2 linked regions of the Homo sapiens genome follow. The protein of the gene in region 2 interacts with the protein of the main gene of each other region in a pairwise test. Each region holds a gene or a part of one and is shown on either strand. Other genes may lie near its edges.

Region 1 (16,569 bases), on a different chromosome or scaffold from region 2:
CACGAACATGACTCATTACAGCTTCAAACTCCCAGGCTCAAGCGATCCTCCCACCTCAGCCTCCTGACTAGCCAAAACTACAGGCATGCACCACCATGCCAGGCTAATTTTATTTTTATTTTTGTAGAGATGGGGTCTCACTATGCTGCCCAGGCTGGTCTCGAACTCCTGGCCTCAAGTGATCCTCCCACCTCAGTCTCCTGGAAAGTACTTCTTTATTAGATTAATAGAGTCTAGGAATACATTTTAGACAGTGATCTAATATTTTACGTGTACTTAATTCTGGTGAAATACTTTTTATACATAGCATGCAGCCAGATACAAAGTCAGTTTAGGAATATAGCCAATATAAATATTAAAGTCTATACTCTGATTTCTGTAGGTAAATGGGAAACTGATAGTCCTATATTAGTACTTTCTTAGTCATATATGTATATGTGGATATATATATAACTTCTATTCCTTATGATTATTATTAAAGAGAGATGTGTGTATGTATGTATAGATAATATAATTCAATATGTGTTGAATAAGTGAAGATCTTTAAAAATAAATAGTAAATAGTAAAACTAGAAAGTTCTCAAGAAAAAGTTAGTCTTAGTCATATGTTCTCTAGTTAAGAAAGTTTTATCATAGTACATCATCCAAACCAGGTTTTATTATTGACAGTAGATTGGAAACCTACTAAATAGCCACCTTAAAGCTAAGAAGGAATATGCACCATTTATGCAGACATGAAAGATTTCCTATTACTAGAAAGTAGATGATAAAATAGTAATGTAGATACCTACTTAAAGTTAAGATATCACCATATAACTAAGTATCAACACGTTCTCATTGTTTTAATATCTTATTATTTAAGTTATGATATTGTGTGGCTCAGCTAAAATCTAAACCCTTAGTCTCCACAGTCTGAGATCCTAGCCTCTTAGCATACGCTGAACCTAGACATAAAGAACTATAGAGGCCGGGCGCGGTGGCTCACGCCTGTAATCCCAGCACTTTGGGAGGCTGAGGCGGGTGGATCACCTGAGGCCAGGAGTTCGAGACCAGCCTGGCCAACATGGCGAAACCCCATCTCTACTAAAAATACAAAAATTAGCTGGCCATGGTGGCGGGCACCTATAATCCCAGCTACTTGGGAGGCTGAGGCAGGAGAATCATTTGAACCCAGGAGGCGGAGGTTGCAGTGAGCCGAGATCGTGCCATTGCACTCCAGCCTGGGCGACAGGGCGAGATTCCATTTCAAAAAAAAAAGAACTATAGAAACGCTATTAACAGTCATGCACTTTATGGCATGTGTCATAGAAATGCATATTCAAACAGATCAAACAGCTGCCTTGTCAGAATAAAATGCACTTTAACATCCTCTAAAATTGGTACTTTTATTCCCATTTTATATTAATAGTTGAACAAAATGAGGGTTAGAATGGTTAAATAAATTGTCCTACTGTAAATATAAATATATATAAATTCATCCTTTAAAAAAGTAGTGGCTATAAAATAATGACAATAGCTAATAACTTGTTACCATTCATTCTTTTATATTCAATGCCTTTTATTACCGAAACTTTGATATTCTGAAGCAAAATAGCTCTTCTAAGTACAATACAGTTCATTTATTTAGGCTCTGCAGCATGTTGTTTATGCCATATCAAGCTTCCTTTTTTTGAAACAGTTTTGCTCTGTCACCCAGGCTGGAGTGCAGGGACACAATCATGGCTCACTGCAGCCTTAACCACCCAGTCTCAAGCAGTCTTCCCACTTCAGCCTCCCAAGTAGCTGGGACCCCAGGTGTGCACCACCATGGCCAGCTAACCTTTAAAAAAATATTTTTTGTAGTGATGGGGTCTCCCTGTGTTGCCTAGGTTGGTCTTGAACTCCTGGGCTCAAGGGATCCTCCTGCCTTGGCCTCCCAAAGGATTACAGGCATGGGCCATTGTGCCAACCCTCAAGCTTTCTTAAATACCAAATTATAGAACATGTCTTCACAGAAGATAAATCTTGAATAGTATGAAAACAGGAGACAGATGTATTACAGGCAATTCCCAAATTCAACAGTACTAAATATTTCATTTTGTCTAATTTCCCTGGCTAAACTCAGCATAGATTTTCTTTAAAAAAAAAAAAAACTTTACAAGACACATCACAATACACTTTTTTTTTTTTTTTTTGGAGATGTAGTTTCACTTTTGTCACCCAGGCTGAAGTGCAATGGCACGATCTTGACTCACTGCAACCTCTGCCTCCCGGGTCCAAGCGATTCTCTTGTCTCAGCCTCCCAAGTAGCTGGGATTACAGGCGCCCACTACCATGCCTGGCCAATTTTTGTATTTTTAGTAGAGACGGGATTTTGCCATGTTGGCCAGGCTGGTCTCAAAATCCTGACCTCAGGTGATCCACCCGCCTCGGCCTCCCAAAGTGCTGGGATTACAGGCATGAGCCACTGCACCCAGCCTCACAACGAACTTTTATTTTTGTTCTCAAAATAATACCATTTGTTTTCCAAAGTCTATATTTATTTTATATTACCCACTGTCATAATCAGACACTGTTCAATTTGTACTTTCCTTTCAGACAGAAGAGCTGGAAAAGCAGTTAGTCCTTGCCAACTCAGAGCTAACTGAAGCCCGGACAGAGCGTGATCAATTCAGTCAGGAATCTGGAAATTTAGATGATCAACTTCAAAAGCTGTTGGTAAGATTATGCTTTAAAATATGAATAAGACTAATTCTGGGAAGTTTTTCACTGAAATATATCACAAAACTCGTTTCCTTTATAAAATTACAAATTTACAAAATATTTGTGCATACATGCAATAGATTATTTTAGACACAATTCAAGTTTTGCATATAAAATATGATATTCTGTATACTTAACTTTTTTCTTAAGCAGAGCTATTACAGTATTAGGTGAAGGAGATCTTGACATAGCCATAGTCTTTCAAGTAGATACCATATTCCATTAAATTGAAGTAGTGTTACACGTTCATTTTAAGGCCAAATAACATTCAAAACACATAAAAATTGTGTATATAGAAATTTGGAATGGACGGTTAGGTGAAGTTGTTTTAAAAGAAAAGGACAGTATGATTGTGCTCATAATGAAGCCACTCTGTCCTCTGTTAGAGGAACTATAGGATGAGAAATTTAGGAAAGGAAATGTTTGGAATCCCCTTTTGCGGTATTAGTGGTATAACAGAATAAATTTCTCGGCTTACCAAACCCCATTCCAGGGAATGGTGCTCTTTGCTGGTAAAGCCATCCTTTGCAGGCTGACAAGGGTTTGATGAGCTGAGGTAAGGATAGAACTGAGAGCTGTGTAGAGAAGCTCTTAATCTTGGCATAATTCTTCAGTTCTTTACCTAACATTTGCATGTTTTTCAGTGTTCTCCTATCTAATTTGAAAATCTTGGAGACTGAATGTCTGAAAGATCCTCAAACCTGGCCTCCCTTTTCATTCTTACCATCACCACCTCTCGTTCAACCCCTCATTACTCATTGCCTGAAGCATGGCAGTCTCCTTACTGATGTTCCCAACTCCAGTTTTTCTCCTCTTCACTCCTTCCTGTAAAGGGCTGCCGCATACATCTCTCTAAAATGTAGCTCCGATGATGTCACTGTTCAACTCAAAATTACTTTCTCCATAAAGTCAGACACCCTCCCTTTCAATACTGTTCATGATCCATCACCCTGCTAACCTTTCCAATCCTTTCTCTCTACCCGGACCCAGTGCACCAAGCAAACACACAGGCCCCTTTCCTGTCCCTTCTTCCTAATCTCTACATCTTCAGGTCTAACTCAAATACTATCCTGAAGCATTTTGATCCCTTTAGTGAGATTCTGTCTGCTATTCCTTATCTTTGTTCCTTTAATGAAAAACCACTTCCAGTTACTTATGTCTATGTCTTAACTTTCTCTTGGATCCTAAGTCATTTGAGTGTAGATATATCTTTGTTTTTACTAGTCTGACTAGAGTTTTTGCTCCTATTCAACACTATGTATTTTTTAAGTGACTGAAAAGGGAGGTAATTCTATTCACAGCCCAGATGCTACTCCAATTCCAGTACCAGCCACTATTCTGCCATCTCTCCATTACTTATCATTTTTCCTTTACTTATCATTTTTCCTTCATGCTTTTGAGCATTTCTTTATTATAGGAGCATACCTGATGTGAGACATAATGTCTTTCTTAGAAAATGCAAGACTTAAAAACAGGATGACTTTTAAAATCTACTGTATTTTCCTTTTCATTGTATATTATTTGAGGTCTAGTCCCTCGAGATAGACTAGTAATGCTAGAAATTTTAAGCAAAATGTTAACTTATTTTTCTTGGAAATAATTGCTCTTAAGCCATTAAAAAGGAATCAGATTCCAAAATCAAAGGTGTCTGAAATCACATAAAAACTCCAAATATGATATAAAGACAATATGTTTTATCTTAATTATTTAATAGCAGGGAGGAAAAAAGCATTCCTCTCTTTTTTTAGGCTGATCTACACAAAAGGGAGAAGGAGCTGAGTCTGGAGAAGGAGCAGAATAAGCGTCTGTGGGACCGAGACACAGGCAACAGCATCACCATTGACCACCTGCGGCGGGAACTGGACAACCGGAACATGGAGGTGCAGCGCCTGGAAGCCCTGCTCAAGGCCTTGAAGAGCGAGTGTCAGGGCCAGATGGAGCGGCAGGTCAGTGCCTGCACAGGCTGTGCCATCGCCAAACAATCTCCTCTGGGGAAATAAATATTTTATGTCTAAATAGAGCTTTTTATTTTTAACATATATGGACCTAAAATGGCTCCTAAAATAAAGCTATGGATTCTGTGAGCAATTTATGAAAACCTGATACTTATTTTTCATTTTATTTCATTTTTTGTTTATTTATTTATTTATTTATTTTTAGATGGCGTCTTCCTCTGTCACCCAGGCTGGAGTGCAGTGGCGCGATCTCGGCTCACTGCAACCTCCACCTCCCGGATTCAAGCAATTCTCCTACCTCAGCCTCCCAAGTAGCTGGGATTACAGGCGTGTGCCACCATGCCCAGCTAATTTTTTGTAGTTTTAGTAGAGATGGGGTTTCACCATGTTAGCCAGGATGGTCTCGATCTCATGACCTCATGATCTGCCCACCTCAGCCTCCCAAGGTGCTGAGATTACAGGCGTGAGCCACTGCGCCCGGCCTATATATAGACACTAATTAAACTAAATGTGTCAAGCTTTATCTCACTTGTACATTGTTGAAGAACTAAACTCTTATCCCATTGCCTTTTCACGTTTACCTAAAAATTGGTAACCTAATAATTGCTTATTTCTGCTGCAGAGAAGCATCAAATTATTGGGCAGCCTGAGAAGCAACAGGGTTGAAGGTTTCTAACAGATTTTTTTGCTTTATTTTTCTCCCAAAAGAGACTTGCCTCTCTTTCCCCAAGTCTCATCACTGATTGAGACTGATGAGTGCATTCCATTCCGGTGCACCCTCCAGTAGCAAAACGTGGACTGCCTTCTTAATAGCAGTGTACTTTCTGTGCTAGGAAGACATGGTTCTAATGCCAGTTACTGCCACAGGGACATAAAAAGCATCCCACAAAAGTGTAAGCTTCTCAGAATGTGAAAGCAAACCAAGGGACTGGTCTTGGCTTAGACCCAGGCAAAGCCATTAACCTACTCTCTGGCTTAACCTGGGCAAGAAGAAAGATGAAAGGACCAACTGGAAGTTAGAATTTTCAGCTTTTCCAAACAAGGATCAGAGAATATGAATGTGTGTGTGGATAAAAGCCATTATTCATTTTTTTCCTCAGAGGTAGAATTAAAGGTAAAGTTGGAGGGAAATTAAAAATAAGGGGTAGTTATTGTAAATTCCGCCACCCTTCCCCCCATTGCCAGGGTTATCTTAATCTAAATCAGTACAGAAAACATCCACAGAGGAAACTTCCCAAGACTGCACTCTAGAACACCGTTGTGGAGGAGCGTTATTATTTAATTAAGCCCTCTCCACCTTGGTCTAATTAGCATATGTCAGTCTTACATATGTTATAAGAGCTAGAGTTCTGACAGCAAAATGATTGAGTTAATTTAACTAGACATGGCTGGGTACAGTGGCTCATCCCTGAAATCCCAGCACTTTGGGAGGCCGAAGCAGGAGATCATTTGAGGCTGGGAATTTGAGAAGACCAACCTAGGGAACACAGTGAGACCCCCATCTCTTAAAAAAAAAAAAAAAGATCTTACTAAACATTGCCTAATTCATGATTTCATGCTTTTAAGTTAACTTGTATCTCTTGAGGTTGCCTATACCTATCCTCCCAAATCTATGAAATTCTCTTTTCTTTAACAATCAGATGGCAGCAATTCAAGGAAAGAATGAAAGTCTAGAAAAAGTATCCTCCTTGACTGCTCAGCTTGAATCCACCAAAGAGATGCTGCGCAAAGTAGTAGAAGAGTTGACAGCCAAGAAAATGACTCTGGAGAGCTCAGAGAGGACAATATCGGACCTGACAACTTCTCTCCAGGAAAAAGAGAGAGCCATCGAGGCTACCAATGCAGAGATCACAAAGCTCCGCTCCCGGGTGGACTTGAAATTGCAGGAGCTGCAACACTTGAAAAATGAAGGGGATCATCTCAGAAATGTGCAGACAGAATGTGAGGCCCTCAAACTGCAGATGACAGAGAAGGACAAGGTGATCGAGATTCTGCGACAGCAGATTGAGAACATGACACAGCTGGTGGGCCAGCATGGACGAACTGCTGGAGCTATGCAAGTAGAAAAAGCTCAACTGGAGAAAGAAATTAATGATAGGCGGATGGAACTAAAGGAACTTAAGGTCTGTAGAGTTTTTTTGTGATTTAACTTCTGAAATATCATTTATTAGCAGGTATGACCTGTACTGAAAAGTGGTTCTTGGTATCTGTGGACACTCTGAAACTGTTGGAAGGTGTTTGTTTCTATGTGTATATGTGTGTTTTTGTGAGAAAGGATAAATACTTTTATCAGATTATAGAAGGAATGGATGACTCGAAAATGGCTCAAAATCACGGGTACAAAAGAAAAAAGATCAGAAAATCTATGAAGTCTTTCCTGATACCACAGGAAAGTATTTTCTCCCTCTTCAGACAGACCTAAATTTGAACCCCGTCTCTCACTACTTAGTTACAGTGAAACATTGGACTGTTTGCTGAATCTTGGCTTCGATATCTGATAAACAAAACCAAACCAAAAAGTAAACAAAACAAAAAACTCCCAACAACCTGTTGGGTTACTGTGAGGCTTAAATCAGAAAGTATATATCAAGGAATGAGCCTATTAATAGTTTCTGGCTATTTAATAATTTAAAATTTAAATAACTTAATAATTTAAAATTTAATAAATATTAGTTTCTTTCCCCTGTTTTGGTCTCCTTCTGAACTTTCTCATACTTTATTTGTACCTGTTAAAACCTGGTTCACATTCTATATTGCCGTGTGTGTGTGTGTGTGTGTTTGTGTGTGTGTTTATGTAGCAGTGTCTCCTTTTCCCTACAAGATTGTAGACTTCTTCAACCAGGGTACACATCTTATTAGCCTTTGTACCTCCTGCCCCATATTTTTGTGCCTTGCACCCAGAAGGTGCTCGATAAATACTTATCAAAATTTAACACAATTTAATGGGTTTTTTAAAAAAATTGATTTCATAGGATTAATGTCACCTTTATCTCTGACTTGGTGAGTAGTAGGAGACAAATCACATATACTGTAGATGCTTCAGTTTCCTCCTTCTAAAAATAGGGCCAGCAATAGATAATTATCCATCTTATGGAAATAAACAAGTTCATTGCATTAAAAATAGAATTTTCTATTGCTTAAGTTTTTACCTGATTATATACATTTTTAAATGGCCAAACTCACCATGAAAAGGGACATAGAAAGGATTCTCAATGGCCAGCCCTACAATGAAACCCTTAGAACAGGTGTGATGCAGGGCAGAGCATATCAGAGGAGAAAGGATGGTTGTTCTACCTTGCTTAGGAAGATCACTAGTGGATTGCTAGTGTGTTAAGGTTCTAAACAGGAGAATCCCACTCTTATACTCTAAAACTTAAATCAATTTAATCCTCACAAAACCTTATGAGGGAGGCACTATTATTATCCCATTTTACAGCTGAGGAAACTGAGACACAGAGAGTTTAACTTTCTGGAGAGCAGCACTACCTTGTGGTTTGAACCTAGGCAGCCTAAGTAGATGTTACTGTGCAGTGGTTCTCAGTGAGAACCGGAATCGCCTGGAGGGCTTTTTAAAGCATGGACTGCTGGCCTGCTCCCAGAGTTTCTGACTCAGTAGGTCTAGGATGGGGTGTGAGATTTGGTGTTTCTGAACAAGTTGCCAGATGACGTGGATACTGCTGGTCCTGAGAGCATCCATCAGGATCTGTGTTAGTGCCTCAAAGGAATGTGGAGCTCCTGACTAGAGGGCCAGTGAAAGCTTCAGAGAGAGCTGGGAACCTGAAATGGGCAAAAACTAGGCAAAGAGAAGGAAGGATGGCATTCCAAGCCCGGGAAGAAGCCTAGTCTGTAATTTAGCCTAGAGATGGTGTGGGAGACATTAAAGGTTTAGGGGTAGGAAGGAGGGGGTAACATGAAGAAGACAGTGTTGGAAGTGGATTAATCTGGCATCAGTATGCAGAAGTGGCTTGGAGAGAGTAAAACTAATTTTCAGTTCCTAAATATGGAGCTGGAGCAGCTTCAGGGAATAATTTCCTAGGTAATTAGAGTTTCACACAGACACAAAGAACATAAGTTTAAAACTCAAGTCCTAATGCCACATCCACTTCCCTCTGTGATCTGATAAGAAAAAAAGGTGGGGGAATCATAGCTGTAGAAGGTATGGTTTCTCTCCTGGTTTCTGTCCCCTCTTCAGAGTGGGTACTGCACACATTGACAGCAGAGAAGCAGAGTGACTTTTATTTCAATAACTGTGGGTCCCCAGAGCTAGACCTTTCTTAAAAACAAATAAATAATAAGACTAAGAAAGGACTGAATTCTATCAGCTGGCCTCAAGAGGTGGAACAGGAGCAGCACTCGTCCTATGTGTGTTGTGATGCCTCAGGTTGTCCCAGGGAAAGCCCTCCCCGTCCCTTACTGCATGAGGTCAGCTGGATTTAGTGTGACAGTTGCCAGGAGTGGCTAGGCAGAGATCAGATAGCCCAGATTAGGGCCTTTACTGCCCAAACCCATCACAGGCGGGCAGTGAGACAAGCCTGGGGCTCCCCACCAATCCTTTTTGAACAGCCAAAAGCTTGTCATGTGGCTATATTTCAGATGTATCATTGGTCTCCACAGTTAAACTGCTGCTATAGCAGTCAAATTGCATCTGCCAGGATACTAAGGCCAGTAGGGCGATAATTTGGGGAAACAATCTGATGACCAAAGAAAGTCAATATTTTTTTCAAATGTCACTTATTCGGAAGGATCTAGGTCAGTTCTGTCCACCAGAAATACAGTGTAAGTGACATATATAATTTTAAGTTTTCTAGTAGACACATAAAAGAAATGTGAAATTAATTTTAATAACATTTTATTTAACTCATATTCAAAATATAGTGTTTTTAATATTATAATCAATACAACAGATCACCAAGATATTTTATATTCTATTTTTATACAAAGTCTTTGAAATCTGGTGTATATTTCACACTTACAGCACATAACTTAGTTTGGCCACATTCCAGGTGCTCCAGAGTCATGTGCAGGTATTGTGTTAGACGACACAGACCTACACCCTGGGAAGAGAGGGGTCCTCCTAGGAAGCCTTACCAACACAGATAGAGACCAGTTAGGAGGCACTGTGGCAATCCATATGCAAAGTGATGGCAGTCCAGACCTGCAGGTTGGGCAGGATTTGATCAACAATTGGGTATGAGGGGCGAGGGACAGGGAAAGACATGGTGACTTTGTGAGTTCAAACTTAGACTGGCAACATGGTAGTGCCTCTAACAGAGAAGAGTCAGAAAGGATTGTAGGGGAAGGCCCTCTGTGAAGAAGGAATAGGAATGTTTGAGTCAGAGTTTGCAGAAGCATGCCATGCTGGGGGTTTCTGACAGTTAGTTGGAAACGCCGAATTAGAGTTGCCATATTCACATTCCCTACCCTAGTCAAAGGACCAGATACTTTCACCACCACAAACCACCCCAGTCTAAGCTCCCACCTCTCTTGTTTGCTCTTCCAGTTGCCTTCTCACTGGTCTCCATGCTTCTCCCCCTACCCCCACGCCAACCACTGTTTTCCTTCATACCAGAGCCAGAGTTGTATTTTTAAATTGTTACACTACATCACTCTCATACTCAAAACTGTCCAATGACTTCCTGACTCACTCACAATGCATGCTCAAGTTCTTACATTGCCTCTGAGCAACCTGATCATTCCCTTGGCCCCTCTCTGACTTCATCTCCTGCTTACCCCAAGCTCACTTCACTCCAGCCCTACTGATGTCCCTGCTCTTCCCCAGACACGTTACCTGTACACAGAGCTCTTCCCAGACTGTCCACGTGTCTTGTCCTTATGCTCAGGAGCACAAGGAGCATCTGCTTAGATGTTACATCATCAGAGAGGCCTTTCCTTGCCAACTGTGGCAGGGTCCCCAAGACCGACCCCAGGTTTGATGATTCCCTAGGAGGACTCGCCAGACTCAGCATATAATCATACACAAGGCTAGGATTTATTACAGTGAAAGGATACAAAGCAAAATCAGCAAAAGGAAAAGGCACACGGGGCAAAATCCAGAGAAAGCCAGGCATGAGCTTCCAAGAGCCTTCTCCGAGTAGAGTTATGCAGGACATGCTTACTTCCTACTCCACCCCCTGCCCCAGCAAGACACCGTGACAACATCTGTCAAGTGCTGCTAACCAGAGAAGCTCATTAAAGCCTCAGTGCCCGGGTTTTTATATTGGAGTTTGGTCCCATAGGCCCCTCTACCTGGCAGGTATCCAGATTCCACGTTCCCAGAAGGAAAGCAGGGGTTCAGCATGAACACATTGTTTGCACAAACAGTTTAGGCACACTGAGCCACTCTTATTAGGGTGGTGGGAACCCTCCCAAAATCCAAGTTCCCAGACGACAGTCAAGGGCCAACCTTGTAAGCGGCCTTTTTGAGGAGAGCACCCAAACCTGCTATGTGAACTCTTTCTGCACACCAGCTTACCTCAAGTAGCAACCCCTCCCTTGCATTCATTCTGTACCCCTCACCTGCTTTTATTATTATTCTTGCCACTTCTCTTACCTGACATATTAAATATTTGTTTGTTTTCTTCTCTTCTTACTAGAGGAGGACATGAAGACAAAGACATTGTTTTGTTTATTGCTATCCAGGGCCAGGACTAGGGTGAGGTAACTGAGGTGCCCAGGTTAGAGGCCCTCACCTAGCTGCTTCACTTGCATTACCCTAGTCATAGCCCTGCTTCTATATCCCTTGCTTGTAAAATAGTTCCTGCCACAAAGAAGGTTCTTAATATGTATTTTTTGAGTGAATGGAGATAGAATAGGAATAATGAAGGGTTGTTGCAAGCAATACTAGGAATTGACATCTAAGGTTAAAAGAAAGTGAAATATTTTCCCACTTTCTATTGATGCTTTATAATAAAATACAAATTTAGTGTCCTGGGAAGTAATGAAAAGATAATAAATATAGATGGAATACAGATAGGAGGCAGAAAAGGATATTAAGTAGGAGACTGTTGTCAGATTTTAGGACTGTGTTAGCAGCTATCAATTATAACTATACATGTACATATTTTTTACTTCTCTATCCTTTGTATTTATCCATATATTTAGATATTAAAAGATAAAAAAGATGCAAAGATCCGGGAGCTTGAGGCCAGAGTGAGTGACTTGGAGCTGGAAAAGGTGAAGCTGGTGAATGCAGGCTCTGAGCGGCTCCGTGCAGTGAAGGACATCAAACAAGAGAGAGATCAATTATTAAATGAGGTGAAAACAAGTAGGAGTGAATTAAACAATCTTTCAGGTATGTTGCTTCAGCACAAATCCTACTAAAAAATAAGAGTCTTAGCAGTGAAGCCAATGTAGACCCTAGCACAATTGCAAAAGAAGGGTGTCTCACTCACATGACAAACATGAATAGTTATGCTGCCCCCATGGAGTTATTCATAGCATGAAATCTCATAGTTTTCATGAAGAGTTCCCACATCTTACACTTACTGACCTTAACTTTAGTCAGCCCTCAGTGTACTGGAAATTCTGTACTGAATTTCTAAGAGAAGTGTGAGGTGTCCAGAGTCCAGGCTTCCAAAAGGAAAACAGGTGTTCACATAAATCACATTGTCTGCACAGTTTTGTGTTTATGAAAGTGGAAAACCTTGAGTCCTTGGAGTCAAATAGCTTGATTAGAAGTTTACTAATGAAGTGACATGTGAAAATAGACATGTGAATTTATTGACAGGAAAAATCCATGGCCTTATATTAAACAGTGAAACACTCCAGTTTATGGTTGGTATGTGTATTAGTCCCTTCTCGCATTGCTGTAAAGAACTACCTCAGACTGGATAATTTATTTTATTTATTTATTTTTGAGACAGAGTCTCACTCTGTCCACCAGGTTGGAGTGCAGTGGCGTGATCTCAGCTCACTGCAAGCTCCGCCTCCCGGGTTCATGCCATTCTCCTGCCTCAGCCTCCCAAGTAGCTGGGACTACAGGCGCCCACCACCACGCCTGGCTAATTTTTTGTATTTTTAGTAGAGATAGGGTTTCACTGTGTTAGCCAGGATGGTCTCGATCTCCTGACCTCGTGATCCACCTGCCTCAGCCTCCCAAAGTGCTGGGATTACAGGCATGAGCCACCCCACCCAGCCCAGACTGGGTAATTGATAAAGAAAAGAGGTTTAATTGACTCACAGTTCTGCAGGCTGTACAGAAAGCATGGCTTGGAGGCCTCAGGAAACTTAAAATCGTGGAAGATGAAGGAGAAGCAAGCACATATTCACATGGCAACAGGAGAGAGAGAGACAGAGAGAGAGCACACAAAGGGGGAGGTGCTACACACTTTGAAACAACCAGATCGCATGAGAACTCACTCACTGTCATGAGAACAGCAAAGGGGAAATCCGCCCCCATGATCCAGTCACCTTCCACAAGGCCCCTCCTCCAACACTGGGAATTACAACAGGACATGAGATTTGAGTTGGGACACTGAGCCAAACCATATCATTCTGCCCCTGGGCCGTCCCAAATCTTATGTCCTTCTTACATTTCAAAACACAATCATGCCTTCCCAATGGTCCCCCAAAGTCTTAACTCATTCCAGCATTAACTCAAAAGTCCAAGTCCAAAGTCTCATCTGAGACAAGGCAAATCACTTCTACCTATGAGCCTATAAAATAAAAAACAAGTTAATTACTTCCAAGATACATGGAGGGTACAGGCACTGGGTAGATGTTCCTGTTCCAAAAGAGATAAATTGGCCAAAGCAAAGAGGCTACAGGGCCCATGCAAGTCTGAAACCCAGCAGGGCAGTCATTAAATTTCTAAGCTTTGAAATAATCTCCTTTGACTCCATGTCTCACATTCAGGGCATGCTGATGTAAGGGGTGGGCTTCCAAAACCTTGGGCAGCTCTGCCTCTGTGACTCTGCAGGGTACAGCCCCCATGGCTGCTTTCATGGGCTGGCACTGAGTGCCTATGACTTTTCCAGGCACATAGTGCAAGCTGTCAGTGGATCTACCATTCTGGGGTCTGGAGGACAGTGGCCCTCTTCTCACAGCTCCACTGGGCAGTGCTCCAGTGCAGACTCTGTGTGGGGGCCCCAACCCCACATTTCCCCTCTGCACTACCCTAGTAGAGGTTCTCCATGAGGGCTCTGCTCCTGCAGCAGACTTCTGCCTGGACATCCAGGCATTTCCATATATCCTCTGAAATCTAAGTGGAGGCTCCCAAGCCTCAACTCTTGCCCTCTGTGCACCCACAGCCCCAACATCACATGGAAGCTGCCAAGGCTTGGGGCTTGCACTCTGAAGCAACAGCCTGAGCTGTACCTTGGCCCCTGTTAACCAGAGTTGGAACTGGAGCAGCTGAAATGCAGGGCACCATGTCCCAAGGCTGCACAGTGCAGCAGGGCTCTGGATCTGGTTCACTAAACCATTTTTCCCTTCTAGGCCTCCAGGCCAGTGAGGGGAGTGGCTTCTGAGAAAGTCTCTGAAATGACCTGGAGACATTTTCCCCATTGTCTTAGCTATGAACATTTGGCTCCTCTTTACTTAGCAAATTTCTGCAGCCTTGAATTTCTCCCTAGAAAATGGATTTTTCTTTTCAACTGCATGGTTGGGATGCAAATTTTCCAAACTTTTATGCTCTACTTCCCTTTTAAATATAAATTCTAGCTTCAGGTTATTTCTTTTTTAATGCAAATGAGCACAGGCTTTTAGGAGCAGCCAGGCCACATCTTGAACACTTTGCTGCTTAGAAATTTCTTCTGCCAGATACCCTAAATCATCTCTCTCAAGTTCAAAGTTCCACAGATTCCTAGAGCAGGGGCACAATGCTGCCAGTCTCTTTGCTAAAGCATAGCAAGAATGATCTTTACTTCATTTCCCAGTAAGTTCCTCATCTCCATCTGAGACTTCTTCAGCCTGGACTTCATTGTTCATATCACTGTCAGCATTCTGGTCACAACAATTTAACAAGTTTCTAGGAAGTTCCAAACTTTCCCACATCTTCCTGTCTTCTTCTGATCTCTCCAAACTGTTACAACCTGTATCTGTTACCCACTTGCAAAGCTGCTTTCATATTTTCAGGTATCTGTAGAGCAGTATCCTACCTCTCTGGTACCATTTTTCTGTATTAGTTCATTTTTGCATTGCTATAAAGAACTACCTGAGAATGAGTAATTTGTGAAGAAAAGAGGTTTAATTGACTCACAGTTCTGCAGGCTGCACAGGAAGCATGGCTGGGAGGTCTCAGAAAACATAATCATGGTGGAAGGTGAAGGGGAAACAAGCACATCTTCACATGGTAGCAGTAGAGAGAGAGAGAGAGAGAGAAGAGGGAGGTGCTACACACTTTCAAACAACCAGATCTCATGAGAACTCACACACTGTCACAAGAACAGCAAGGGGGAAATCCTTCCCCATGATCCAATCACCTCCCACGAAGCCCCTCCTCCAACACTAAGAATTACAACAGGACATGCGATTTGGGTCAGAACACAGAGCCAAAGCATATTAGTATGGTATGAAGTATCATGTACTTCATAAAGTCAGAAGTTACTGAGCATTTACTATGCAAGACACTGTGGTAGAACCTGGAAACCCCACAATGAAGCTCACAGTCTAGTAGGGAGATAAACCTAGATAGAAATGGGTGAATAACCAGTGTGTGAGGCACAGTGAAAGTGTATTGAGTACAAAGATAGCACAGAGGATACAGAATTTACCTCCTGTAGGAAGTGACATCTGTACTGGGTTTGAAAGAGGAAAAGGAATTCAGCAGGTGAAAAAGGGGTGCAAGGGACATTCCAGGCAGAGAGAACATTATGGGCAAATGCATGAAGCCATGAAATATCAAAATGTGACCTCAGAAGTATTAGCTGGAGCAAAAGTGAAACGAATGAGGGCTAAGAAATAAGGCAGAATAGATAGGTAGAGCCGGGTAATGTGGAGCCCACAAAAGATATTAAGTAGGAGATTTTTTGTCAGATTTTAGATGGACTGTGTCAGTAAGTAAATTAGAGAAAAGAAAAGCAGACCAAGCAGTTAAGGAGGATTTTTGCAGTCGTCCCAGATAAATAGAATGAGGACTTGAATTAAGGCAGTGGCAGTGAGAATGGAAGGAAAGAATTAAGGATATTTTTGGAGGTTAAATCAACAGCACTTAGTGGTTGGAGGGATTAAGTGTAGGTTTCAGGATTTTAGTTTGTGGTATTGGAAAAGCAATGTAAGCAACTGGGAGAGGGAACCAGAAGGAAAGGCAGGCTTGAGGGCTGGAGGATGAGATGTAGGCACTGTGAGGCAGTTGGTTTCAGGTGGCACGAGGACATCTACATGGAGATGTCTGGACAAATGGAGCTGGAGCTTTGATCCTTTTCTATATAAATCTAATCATATAAATAGATACATATAAATAAATATGTGTGTGTGTGTGTGTGTGCACACATGTGTGTATTGTAGTATATCAAATGATGAGTTTGTGCCAAGTATTTTCACAGATACTGGAGATAAGTCAGATAAGACAGATGGCAGCCTCAGGTTACTTATAGTGTCATGGAGATTCATCTACCAGCAGATGGTGGTTAAATCTACTCTAGTGAACACGGTCATCCAAGAAGAAGGTTTAAGATGAGATAACTGCAAACTAATTATAATGTTTGGGAAAAAACAATGAGTAATAAGTGGGTAGAGGAGGAATAGGATCCACCCAAGCAGATTAAAAAGAAAGGGTCATATCCCTGGAATTGTGTATGTACATCTCATTTCTGTAACAAAGGAAGATGTAATTAAATGACTTCTCTTCCAGTTCTAAAATTCTGTGATCATTAATTACAAATAAAATATACTTAATTAACAATGGGATAGAAAAAAGTAACCATCTATTATT
Region 2 (12,598 bases):
CCAGACACACTTCTGGGGCTTCTCTGCTGGCTGGGGAGGGGCCAGCAGAGGGCGGTGAGATTAATACGCTGACTGAGCCGCGCCAAGGCTCTTTGTCCTCCAGCCGCACGTAAGTCTCCTTGTGTTTATCAACGGGACACCAAACCCACCAGCCTCTGCCACGCCCACCGCCCCCATGGACCACGCCCACAACAGCAAGGCCACGCCCCACCGCGTCCCCGCCGGGCTGAAGCCCCACCTCCAGACGACTTCCTCCTCCCTGCCCACACCCCGCTGGGCAGCGCCCTCCTGTGCCCCCAGCCCTGGCGCCCCCTCCGCACGGCCAGGCTCTAGCGCGGCTCTGCACCCCCCTCCCCTCCCGCAGCTCGCAGATCCACCCCGCCCTCCGCACCTGCCGAATGGGGAGGCTGCGTGGGTCCTTCCGTGGCGCCCCCAACCCGCAACGCCGGGTCCAGACTCCCGGCCTCAAGGCCCTGTCCCTGCCAGGCTCAGCTGAGCCGGGGTCTCACCCAGGGCCGCCCAGGCTCTAGGTGTGCAGCCTGCCTCCCACAGCGGCAGCCGGGCGGCGGCCCCAGCCAGGCTGCCGGGCTGCCCTGGGCGGGGAGGAGGACCCTTCCCCAGCCCTGGGGGAGGAGGCGTCCGGCCGGCTGGAAGGGGTCCCGCACTCGGGGCGGCACAGAGGAGCCAGAGAGGGACAGAAGCTGCATTGTTCCAGCGTCCTCCCACTCCGGCCCCCCTTTTCCTTGGCTCCAAGAAAGAAAACGTCGGGAGGACCCAGAGCCGCAGCCTCCGCGGAGCCTTTCCAGAGCTGCTCCCAGCCCTGCTGCCAGTTGCTGCTGGGGTCCCAGATGGTGGCAGTGCCGAGCCAGGGACACAGGAGGGTACTAGGGGTGCCGCAGGAGCTCTCGGCAGAGCTCCCCACCCTTAGGAAACCCCGGCCATGGGTAGAAATAGGCCTGGACATCCTGGGGGGCACATTCCAGCCCATCCCCTACCCACCCACTGCCATCGGTCACAGCACCTTGTCCCACGGACTCGCTGAGGGCCCCAGAGCCTCTGCTCCTTCCTCTGTCTTCAGCCTCTGCGGTGGCTGACATGCACCCCCAATTTCCCAGGAGAGGTCATCGTCAGAAACCCATGAGCACTGTGGCACAAAAACCCAGGGGATGGCTGGGCACGGTGGCTCACGCCTATAATCCCAGCACTTCTGGAAGCCGAGATGGGAGGATCGCTTGAGGCTGGGAGTTTGACACTGGCCTGGGCAACATAGTGAGGCCCTATCTCTATAAAAACATTTAATTATTAAAAATAAGATAAGAAAAAGAAACTCCGGCAGCCCAGCACCACATCCAAGCCTGGTGTTCCCAGCCTGGTCCTTAGCAGGCCTGGGGGGCACCAGGTACGTTCTGGGAGGCAGGCATCCCTTCTCGGGGGCTGGCAAACTCAAGACCTTTGGGAGTGGGGGACACATGGGTGGGGCAGCTGCTCCCCCCAAGCCTGCCCCTCACCCACCTGCCAGCCACCTCAGGAAGTCGGCCCAACCTGGCACCACCCCCCTGGCACCTATTAGTCTTTTCGCTTTGCAGGGGACGTTCTGTCCTGTGTCTGCAGCACTGCTGACCGGCATGGGACGACCAGCGGTCCATGAATGAGGTCACCACGGTGGCCTCGCATGGCCTTGGGCCTTGCCTGATTACTGCCCCAGGCACATAGGGCTCCCACAGCCCAGCCCAGCCCAGCCCAGCCCAGCCCTCTGGCTGATGCCCTCTCGCCTCCCAGCAGCCCTCTCCTACTTGGGTCTGAGGACAGAAGCCCTCCCTGCACCGAGGGCTCCAGGGGGAGGTGGGGGTGGAGGCCCTGGAGCAGCCAGTGGGGCAACAGGCGACCACCTCCTGTCCTTCATCCAGCAGCCCTGCAGCGCCACTCAGGATGCGGGTGGGAAGGGCTCAGGGTGAACCTCAGGCCTGTGCTGTCCCTGAGGCCAAGAAGAACTGGCTTGTAGGCGCCATTTTCTGGCGGCTGCCACCTCCGCCATGCTGGCCTGGCCTCGATCCCACCCCTCCGCAGCTCCTGATGCGGTCCGTGCCTGTGGGGAGCAAGACCCCCCCACAACCCTGGAACTCACCCTGGGCCTCATAGCCGGCCAGGTCAGGCTTCTCTGAGGCTGCCGGGCTGGTCAGGCGGCCGAGCACCAGCTGCAGCTGCGCCACGTTCATGCGGGCCGTGAGCTCCCCATGGCGGTCCCCGATCTGCGGCGAGTGGGGTGGCGGAGCGGGCAGGTGTGGCTGGGGGCCCTGCTGTGGGCTCCAAGGGGACCTTAATGGCCCCCAGTACACCCGTCCCTGACCTTCTGAGTGACCTGAACTGGTCACTGACCCCTGGGCCTCTGAGGGAACCAGGACTCACTGTGGACCCGGAGGTGGAGTCTGGGGGTCTGTCCCTGGGTGAGGTGGCCCCACAGGTCCTCAACAGCCCCTAGTTCACCCCAGAGATGCTTGGGGTCCCAGGCGGTTGGGCCTGTGCCCTCCGGTGCGCGAGGGGCCCGGCCCCGCCCGGCTGCACCTCTCTCAGCCCCTGCCTTGTGCGCCGAGGCTCTGTGGGGGACCCTCCCGGGAACATCCACATCACTCAGGAACTAACTGTTTGCTTAAGTCAAGCAGAAGAGAGGTGGCATGGGGTTGGGGGGAGGGCCACATGGAGCCCTGGAAGGCCCTGGAGGCTGTAGCCTGCACTCAGAGGGACACGGGGGCTGCCTGCTGGCTGCCAGTGAAGCTCTTCAGACGAGGGCTCTGCTGACCTTCCCATGCCCGCCCCTCTCCACCCTCACCTGGGCACCTGCAGGCCTCCCCACCCGGCCACCTCCTACATGGGTCTATGGTGGTCAGTAGGGGCTGGCACCGTCTTTAGCATGAACAGGCTCGGGGTGTGCAGAGGGAGGTGGCGTGGGAGTGGGTGATGTAAGGACAGGCCGGGAGCCGGGAGGCCCACAGTTCATCTGTGATGTTCCGCCCTGACCACAGTAGGAGGGCGCTGATGGGCGGAGCCCACAGAGACCCTGTGCAAACTCTCCAAGGAGGAGGAGACGCAGCTGCCCAGGAAGGCACCAGCTGGGGGCTGCAGGAAAAACCCCCGGGCATGGTAGACATGTCATCACCAGGCCTCGGAAGGACCAGGCAGCTGCAATGGCCCTGAAAGGATGAGGGGGGCCCAGGCACGCACACGCTCGCTCGGGGCAGAGGGGACCCGGCCCGTCTGGAGTGGGCTGGGCAGTGCCCGGGACTTCTGGGGGCAGGCCTGGCTCACCTCCTGGGAGATCTGCAGGTGCTTCTTGGCGAAGGTCAGGGCCTGCGCTGGGCGCCCCATGGACACGTAGGCATTTCCCAGGCTCCAGCACGCCCGGCCCTCGCCCACTCTGCCAGAGAGGGAGACCAGATTCATACCCGCCCTCTCCAGGCCAGCCCCCAGCCCCAGCCCCTCCCCTGGTGGTCACGGCCCCAGCATGACCCTGGCTTCGAGGGTCATCAGGGGCCCCCAGGCCCAAGGGGCATTGGCCGGATGACAGGATAATGCCCCCAGCTGGACCTCCCACAAATTCTGCCACCTTCAAGCATAAGCCCCAATCAGCTCTGCCTTTTTTCTTCCCATTAAAAGGATTAGCGCAGAGTCCAAGCAACCTGGCCTGTGGCCGGCTCTGCCTTTGCGGGCAGTTTCTGGGCCCTTGGCCTCGCTCGCCCCCTGGCGGCCGGCAAGCCTCCTCCCTTGCACTCCCTCCACCCTTACGGGCACCCTCCAAGTCACTGGGTGAGGGGGTTGTTTTTATATTGGAGGGAAATGCGTCTAACAGGAATTTGATCATTTTCACGTGGACGATCCACTGGCATTTTGTACATTCATGCTGTGCAACCGGCACCTCTGTCTATTCCAGAACATTCTCCTCACCACGCCACAAAGGAAAACCTTGGGCCACTTTTAAGCCTCCAGGCAGGGCAGCCTTTCAAAAGACCTCTCCTCTCTGCTGCCTGTGAAAGGCCACAGGCCTGTGGCTCTGAGCCCCTTGTTCCGGCCACCACCCACCCCAGACCTGCACACAAGACAGTACTTAGGGGCCTGTGGTTTGCCAGCCTGTCTCTCTCCAGAGAGTGATATTTACATACATACATGGGTGGTGGGGGCAACAGGGTGGCGAATTGAGGGATGGGAGGGGGACCCCACCCGCTTGTGCCAGGGGTCAGTGGCCGGCCCAATGTCCACACTGTCTGGCTCAGTCCCCACAGTGGCGTTGCCACTCCTGGGTCACAGCATGGTCAGTGGCAGAGCAGGGGATGGGACCCAGGCCACCTCGCCTGGGCCGCGGTAATTCAGCCTGTGGGCCGGGCCGGGTCTGCCCGCCGCGTCCGCGCCCACGCACCTGTCGGCCAGCTCCTGGGCAATGAGCAGGTGCCGCAGGTGGTACTCGGCCGCGCGCTCGTAGTCCTGCAGCAGCGTGTAGGTGTTGCCCAGACTGTAGCAGGCCTGCGCCTCCACTGCCTGGTCCCTGAGCTGCCGAGACAGTTGCAGCGTCTTCCTGTGCAGAGTGGCAGGGTCAGCCCCCAGGAGGAGGGCTCCAGGGTGAGGGGTGGAAGGTAAGAATGGGGACGCAGTCTGCCCGATGGTCCCCTGCCCCGGAATCCCACTGGGGCCTCTCTGGGGTCCAGCTTCATCCCCACCCTCACATGGCCACAGAGCGGGACTGTTGGCCCCAGGGGGACGGGGGGTCCTGCCAGGCTCTGGCAAGTTGCCTGACCACCCTGAGCCGCCACCACTCCTCCCCGGAGGACCTGAGACTGCTGTGCCCACTGCTCAGGCTGAGATGGGGTTAAGTTTAGGGCTGGGCACAGGACCCCGTGCTGACAGCCGGGCTCCACCCGGCAGGCGCTGCTCTGTGGCTCAGGCCAGGAGGCAGATGGCCCAGACCTCCCATAGGCCGGCTCCCCCACCGCCTGCCTCCCCATGAGCTTTGTCCGTCTGCCCTTCCCGGGGCAGCCTAGAACCCCACCTTGCCTTCTGGGGAGGGGAGGGGAGGCAGTCAGATTCCCAGCTTGGGGCGGGCACTTCCTTGGCCTGGCATCCAGCCCCCCCGGCCTGCTGTCTCCCTGGGAGATTGTGGGGACCACCTACTTGTAGTACTCGGCGGCCACGTCAAAGCGCCCCAGGAAGACGTGGGCGTTCCCCAGGTTGCTGTAGGCCCTCCTCTCGGCTGCCTTGTCTCCAAACTCCTTAGCAATGGCCAGGCGCTGCGGAGACACACCGGAGGCCAGGTGGTCATGGCGCAGCCCCGGGGCCTGACGTGGGCGGACAGGGGCTGCCTCCCTGCCCAGGTGGCCGGCCAGAGATCTGTGTGTCCGGGTGAGCAGCTAGCAGCTGCAGGACCAAGTGCAGATGAGGCCAGGACTCGGTGGGGCGGGCCTGCTGCCTGGCCATACCACCCTGCCCTTTCAGGGACCGCCAAGAGGGTGGCTCAGCCCTGCCCCTGCAGCAGCCCGGCCCCTCCACCCTGTCACCCTGCCCGGCTCACCTCCTTGTGGAAGGTCGTGGCCTCTGTGAAGTTCCCCAACAAATAGTGGGTGTTGCCCAGGTTGCCGTAGGCCCTGCCCTGCGCCGCACGGTCGCCCAGCTCCTTCACCAGGGACAGGTTCCTCCTGGGGGCCGAGTGCCTCTGAGCCGTGTCCCTCCCAGCCCATGTCCTCACCCACCCCAGGCTAGAAGAGCTGAGTAGCGGCCTCCATGCGGCCTCAGGGCCATGCCCTGGAAAGAGGGTGGCTAGGGTAGGCTCCAGGGTCCTCGAGCTCTGAGACCTGGGGCTTGGTCATGTCCCCCAAGTCCCTGACAGGGGCAAGCTCAGGGGAGGGAGCCAGCAGCTGAGAAAGCGGGGGTGGGCGGACCTGGCCGTCACTGCCCTGGGAGCTGTCGGGAGGTATGGGGCTGGGGTCGGGGGTCTGGAAGTGTCTGTGGAGCTCAGAAACGCACAGGCCAGCCCCGGTCCCTGGGCTGGCCCTGCCCCACTCACTCGTAGAACTCGGAGGCCTTGCACAGGGTCTCTCGGACATCGGGCGGCAGGTGCCCGGGGTCCTGCGTGGCGTTTGCGGCGTTCCAGGACAGTTGCTTGCCTTTGGCGTGGTACACGTTCCCGATGTTGTAGAGGGCCCTCGCCTCCCCAACCTGTGGGCAGTACGGAGGGTTGGGGGCATGCCTCCACGGCCCCCCACACGATGTGCAGAGCCGGCACACCGGTGTCCTCACTGTCCCAGCCCTCGACAGCGAGGGCCTTGGGGGCTCCCACTGAGTCACAGACACTAAGGCAGGGGCGGAAGCCTGAGGACGGCACACCCGGGAAGCCAGCCTCCGCCCTCCCTCACCATCCCTCCCTCCTCTGCGGATTGGCGTGGCCAGGGTGCCAGGTCCTCAGCTCTGTCCTCTGATGACCGAGGCTGAAAGCTCCAGCTGGGACCAGATGCTGCGGCCTCAAGCCCCCTTGGTCACCTCCAGCTGTGTGACGGGGGGTAAGTCACGTCCCCCCAGCCTTGGTTTTCTCGCCTCACAGGGCCATGGAGGGAGGTCAGCAAAGCCTGTCTCGGGTCCAGCACAAGCGGAGACGGAGCCACTCTTCCTGCTGTCACCACCGCCATTGAAATCGGCCTCCCACTGCCGCAGCCCAGAGCCACCCCCTGCCTCCCGCTGGGCCCCCCAGGGAGTGAGTGACTGGGGGTGTGGAGGGATTCGGGGGGAGGTCACCGAGAGGGGCGGCAGAACTGAGGGTGGAAGGTGGGGGCCTGGGCTGCAGTGTCAGCATGGGCTGGGGGGGCCTGTTTTGGGGGCCCACACTCTCCTGAGTCACTCGGGATCTAGGGGACCGACCTCCCTGTCATCCCTCCCATGAGGAGCTGGATGAGTGGTGAGTCACCCGCCCGCCCCTATCCCGGATCTGGACGCAGGCCGGTGCAGGGGTGGGAGACACCCAGCCCCGGACCAAGCCCCCACCTTGTCTCCCTGCTCTTGGGCGATGCTCAGATGCCGCTGGCAGCAGACGGCAGCCTCGTCGAAGCGCCCCAGGACCTTGAGTGTGTTTCCCAGGTTTCCACTGGCCTTGGCCTCCCCCATGCGGTCACCGATGGTCCTGGATGGCAGGGAGGAGTGAGGGGTCAGGCTGAGGACTGGTCAGGCCTCTGGGCCCGGGGGGAGGCTGAGCATGGGGTGGGGTAGCTGGGCCTCAGGGACCAGCATGGAGTGGACAGGAGCCTGCAACCCCTGAGGTGATACTGGGCAGGGGCCCACAGGCCGGGCAAGTGAGGCCCGAGGGCAGCCCTGGGTATGGGCTCTGCTGGGCTGTGTCTGGGGCACAGGCTCCTGCCCATCACCACACAGGCTGCACACAGGTGCCAGGAGCTACACACAGGACCTCACGCCTGGGCCTGGGGCAGGGGGCTGGGGTCTGCAGCTCTTAGGATCCGGGGAGGACTTGGGGGGCCTGATGGTGGAGAACTAACTTCCTGCTAACTCATTCAGAGGACGTTTGGTGCATGCCCACCAGACACTGAGCTGGGTGCTGAGGAGCAGGTGTGAGCTCACTGGCCAGTGCGGGAGGGTTGCTCCAAGAAGCTCTGCCCTGCTGAGAGGTCAGGGCAGCTGCAGGGCTGAGGGGGAGGGCGCTGGGCAGGGCTGAGGCAAGGGAAGCGTGCTCCCGTGAGGCACGGCCTGGGGGCTGGACCCGACTGGAGACCCCAAGACCCCAAGGGGCGGCGGGGAGTAGGTTGGGGAGACTGGGGAGTGGATGACGCCAGGCAGGAAGGAGGCTGTGAGTGGGAGCTTGGGGTCCATGGGAAAGCAGGGACAGCCCCCAGGGCAGGACCACACCTCACTGAGCAGTGGCTGGGAGTGGGCCCGGGGCTCAGGGCCTGGGGCCTGGGGCCAGGGAAAGGGTGGGGCTCTGAGCCACACAGGATCACAGATGGGCCACACACAGTCACGAGTGCTCACGCACAGCACGCGGGTCACAGCCCAGGCTCTCACACGCAGACACACAGACCCACTCACGCCTGTCAGCTGAAACCCAGCTCCCTGCCGGGGTCCCAGAGCCCTGGCTGCCCTCCAGGTGAGGGCTTCCCCACTGCGTTCCCTTAGACCCTGCTTGCCCTGTCCCCCTCCTCAAACTGTAACTGCTGAGGACAGGAAGCGTCCACCTGCCAGCAGGGCCACCCCCACTCACCCGCCAGCAGGGCCGCCCCACTCACTGCTCCAGCAGGGCCGTCCCCACTCACCCGCCAGCAGGGCCATCCCCACTCACCCACCAGCAGGGCTGTCCCCACTCACCGCGCCAGCAGGGCCGCCCCACTCACCCACCAGCAGGGCCGTCCCCACTCACCGCGCCAGCAGGGCCGCCCCACTCACCCGCCAGCAGGACCGTCCCCACTCACCGCGCCAGCAGGAGGTCATGCTTGTGGTATTCCAGCGCCCGGCCGTGCTCCTTCAGGTAGAAGTAGGCGTTGCCCAGCTGGCTGTAGATGGCACTCAGTGTCTTCAGGTCCTCGGTGCCCACCTGCACAGCAGCCTCAAAGAAGGCCACGCCTGTCTTGAAGTCGCCCGCCTTGCACAGACGCTCGCCCTCCAGCGCCAGCTCTAGGCAGGACGCCTCCATCCTGTGCAGAGGAACTTGGCGTCATGGCCCAGCCCTGGCAAAGTCGCCCCGGGGCCGGAGCACCTCCGTGGCTTCACTACAGACGACGCCCCTGGGTGGGCTAGGGCACACACCACATCTGTGCTCACAGACCTAAGTGTCTCTTTGGGATACAGGCCTGGAAGCACGTGTGCGGCCCAAGGGCGCCCCAGCCAGCACACCTCTGCCAGCACCTCCTGTCCACCCCTTGTGCGGCCAAGGTCAGGAACGCCACTGGGGCAAAGGTGTGAGTTTGTGACCCCGGCAAGACCCTCAGGCCCAGGGGCCGGTGTTGCAGGGGGTGTGGCCCCCATACCCTGCCTTCACCCAAATCCCAGAGGTACGGGCTGCAGGGGCCAGGCACCCTAGCCATCCTCCTGAGCGACCACAGCTGCTGGGAGAGGCCCCCCTAATTCCCACCAAGAACAACTGAGGCTCCCAGACGGTAGTGGGGGCTTGTGAAGGCCACATGGGGGTCGGGTGGGGTGGGGATCTGATCTCGGCTCCTCCCCCACCCCCAAGCTCTCCCAGCCAGGGCCTGGGGATTCAGTCAGCCTCCAAGTCTCCAGGGGAGACCAGTGCTGCGGAGGTGTGGCTGCGGGTTAGCCAGTCCCAGCCCCTCTCCTCCTGGTCCCCCACCCACAGAGCTAAGCGCTCGCCGCTGCCAGCCAGGACAGGCCTGAGAACCCGCTGTTCCCAGGTGCTGCCCGCCACCCCCAGCGCTGCTGTGGGAAGATGTGGATGGCGCCCCATCCCAAGGTGAACTCCGCCGTGTGAGCGCCACCTAACCCCAAGGGCCAGGCCCTCTTCTGAACACCAACGCCCTGCTTGGCCGTGGTCCCCCACCTTCGGGCAGGGACTTTAGAGAAGAAACCCCTCACCCTGGGCCCTGCACAACCCCCAAGCACCCTGTGCGTCAGCTGCCACCCTAGCCCTGCTCACCGAGGGACCCCCACCCTGGGCCTTGGGGAGCTGCCCTTGGCACTCAGCTGCCGGGGAGGAGTGTGGGGTCACTCCGTGGCTGCCCGGCTCCGCACCTCCCTGCTGCCTGCTCTGGGGCCTGGTGTCCTCCTCCATCCTACTCTTACAGGTCACATGGGCCTCAGGCTGCTGCGCTGCCCTGGGTGGAGGGTCGCGGGGGGAGGACACACCCAGCAGATGCCATGGGGTGGCCAGTGTGAGCAGGCGGGCCCCCATCTGCAGGGTGCCCCCGGAGAGCCACAAAAGACTCAGCAAGGGCGCAGCTTGGGGGGCCCCAGGAGGTGGCAGGCACAGCTGGAGCCCAGGAGGGACCTGATTTCAGAGAAGTGGGGGAAGGGTTCAGCCTCGGCTGCTTGCAGGCCGGCCCCATCATTCCTGTTTGCTTTCTGTTGCTTTCATTTTTCATTTTTAAAACTTATGTTACCATTATTATTTTTATAGAGACACGGTCTTGCTCTGTTGCCCAGGCTGGAGTGCAGTGGTGCGATCTCGGCTCACTACAGCCTCCATCTCCCAGGATCAAGCCATCCTCCTACCTCAGCCTCCCAAGTATCTGGGACTTCAGGTTTGCACCATCATGCCCAGCTTTTTTTTTTTTTTTTTTTTTTTGGTAGAGATGGGGGTCTCACTATGTTGCCCAGGCTGGTCTCAAACTCCTGAGCTCAAGTGATCCTCTCACCTCAGGGCCAGGCCCTCCCACCCACTACCTGCCAGGCACCTCACAGCCACCTCACCCATCCCTCTGGGAATGGCCATCCGGATGCCACGTGGGTCACAGGAGCCCACCGTCGCCATGACAACCAGCCAAGCCCCATCCTGCAGCCAGCGCCACGCACGGGGCTTCCTGATTAAGGCCCACTTGCCCCACCCAGCCACTTTTCAAGTGGTCTCACTCGGTTTACTGCCCCCTCCTTCCAGGCAACATCGGAGGAGAGGGGCTTCAGGCCTGAGGCCTGGGTGTCTGTGGAGCCCAGACGCTGCTGCTCCGCAGATCTGATGATGGGAGCCACCTCCCGCCTCCCTTCCAGCCGGAGACGTGGCATCCGAGGCTCAAGGCGAAGGAGGCTTCTGGCCTGGGAAGGGCCTGGGCCTAAAAGTCGGGGATGGGTGCACGGATGGGCCTCTGTCATTCTGCACCTCCAATCTGGGATCCAGGCAATGCAGCCAGCCACCTGCAGCTGCACCAGGTGGGTGTCCCCTCCACTCATCCCAAGACAGCCTCCAACCACGCCCTGGCACCCACACCCACGTGACCACCCCACTCGCTGCCCGCCGCACCTCTTCCTCTGCAGGTTTCGCATCTTCTGCACGTAGAGCCACAGCTCCAGGCCCACGGGCAGCAGCAGCGGGCGGGGGCGGGGGGCGCCATACACCACCTTGCACACGGCCTTCTCCGCCAAGCTCAGGGCCAGAGGCGGGCCCTCCCCAGCAGGGGATGGCATCGCCAGGCCCCAGGCCCTCCTCCCCCAAGCCAGCCCTCGCCCCACCATGGCCACGGGTCCTGGGGGGTGGGCTGGCCTTAGGCTTCCCTGCCCTCTGACCTCCAGGATGGTGGGTTTAAAGCTCGGCGGGGGACTGCCAGTCCTCCAGCAGGTGCTCGGGGGCCTCCCCAATCCCTGACGTGGATCAAGGGATCAAGGACAGCTCAGAGGCTGGGTCAGCCTCGTCAGCAGCGGGGCGGGGAGCCCTGGGGTAATCCCGTCCAACGTGCTCCTCCAGGGACTGGGACCAGCGGCATTGCCCTCCCGTCAGTCACCCGCCAACTCCTCTGCAAACGTTTATCCAGTTCCCAGCGGGGGCTGCTCTGCCCCAGGACCGGGCTCACTCGGGAGCGCCAGGCACGTTTGTGAATGGAAAGAGGAATGGCGTCCAGAGTGTGTGAGTGCCCCCAGCCCAGCACCTCTTCCCCCAGGCCTGGCCCAGGGCTGGGCAAAGCTGGAATTCTGCGCAGTGGTGGCCCCTGGCCGCCTACCGGTTCTCCAGGCCCCTGTGCCTCCTCTGCTCCACCCGACCCCACCTGGCCCCCTCCCCAGCCTCCCTGGCACCAGCCCACGGTGCCAGCATGGGGCAGCGGGGGGGGGGGGCTCAGAGTCCTCACCATGCCAGCCCCACGTCTGCCGGGCCCTCTGTGCTCTCCCTCACCTGACTGGCCAAGGTGCGAACAGGGCCCCAGGTCTGACGGGGTCAGGGCCACGTGGGGCCTGGGGGATGCCGCTCCCCAGGTCGTGGGGCTTGGGAGGCATGGACCACGTTCCCCTAGCCTGGCTCCTTTCCTCAAACTTCCCAAGCCCCCGGCGTCCTTCTCAGCTGGGCTCCCAGCTTCTCCAGCCACCTGTGGCCCATGAGGAGGCTGGAACCTGACAGAGGCGGGGGACTGGGGGGGCAGGTCTTATCCCTGAGACGGCCACGGGGTCTGAGCAGAGGCAGGAATCCAAGGACAGGTGGGGGTCTTCAGGCCCTGGGCTCTCTCCTCCTTACCTTGAGGCCTTGTGGGCTCAGGGGTCCTACTCAGGCCAGACCATTTGTCCACCTTCAGGACAGCTTGGCCAAAGGCGGGGCAGGACCTAGAATGCCTCTCCCTTGCCCAGTCCTCGTCAACAGACTGAACCCTCAGACCCTCCGTGGTGGCTGGGGTGCCATCACCAAGGCCAGTTCCCAAGCCAGCACTGCAACTCCTACTACCTCCGGCCACCCGAAAGCCGTGTCCCTCAGTCCCAGCCCTGCTAACAGAATTGGCACCTGCCCCTCCCCAAGGCCGTCACCTACATGCTGGCCCCTGAGCAGATGCTGAAGAGACTCTGCTCACAGCTGGCTCTATCTGCCCCATCCCCCAGCCAGACACCCCCAGGGAAAACCACACCGACTCCCCTTCAGTGGCCAGGGGAGGGGAGAGAGTGAGGCGCAGGACCGGGCTGGGAGCACAGCGGG

What was found.
Region 1: the proteins of GPSM1 (region 2) and CCDC158 interact in a two-hybrid assay, tested with the Homo sapiens proteins (2 studies listed by BioGRID and IntAct).

The regions. Positions count from the first base shown.
Region 1 is NC_000004.12:76,357,545-76,374,113, reverse strand, and holds part of CCDC158 (coiled-coil domain-containing protein 158), read left to right. Parts: intron 1-2,577; coding exon 2,578-2,697; intron 2,698-4,490; coding exon 4,491-4,688; intron 4,689-6,337; coding exon 6,338-6,820; intron 6,821-11,798; coding exon 11,799-11,988; intron 11,989-16,569.
Region 2 is NC_000009.12:136,330,521-136,343,118, reverse strand, and holds part of GPSM1 (G-protein-signaling modulator 1), read right to left. Parts: intron 8,673-12,598; coding exon 8,451-8,672; intron 7,154-8,450; coding exon 7,018-7,153; intron 6,199-7,017; coding exon 6,047-6,198; intron 5,679-6,046; coding exon 5,555-5,678; intron 5,274-5,554; coding exon 5,158-5,273; intron 4,565-5,157; coding exon 4,409-4,564; intron 3,413-4,408; coding exon 3,304-3,412; intron 2,250-3,303; coding exon 2,126-2,249; coding exon of another isoform or gene 1,959-2,125; exon of another isoform or gene 1,281-1,958; intron 1-1,280. UniProt on the Homo sapiens protein: Guanine nucleotide dissociation inhibitor (GDI) which functions as a receptor-independent activator of heterotrimeric G-protein signaling.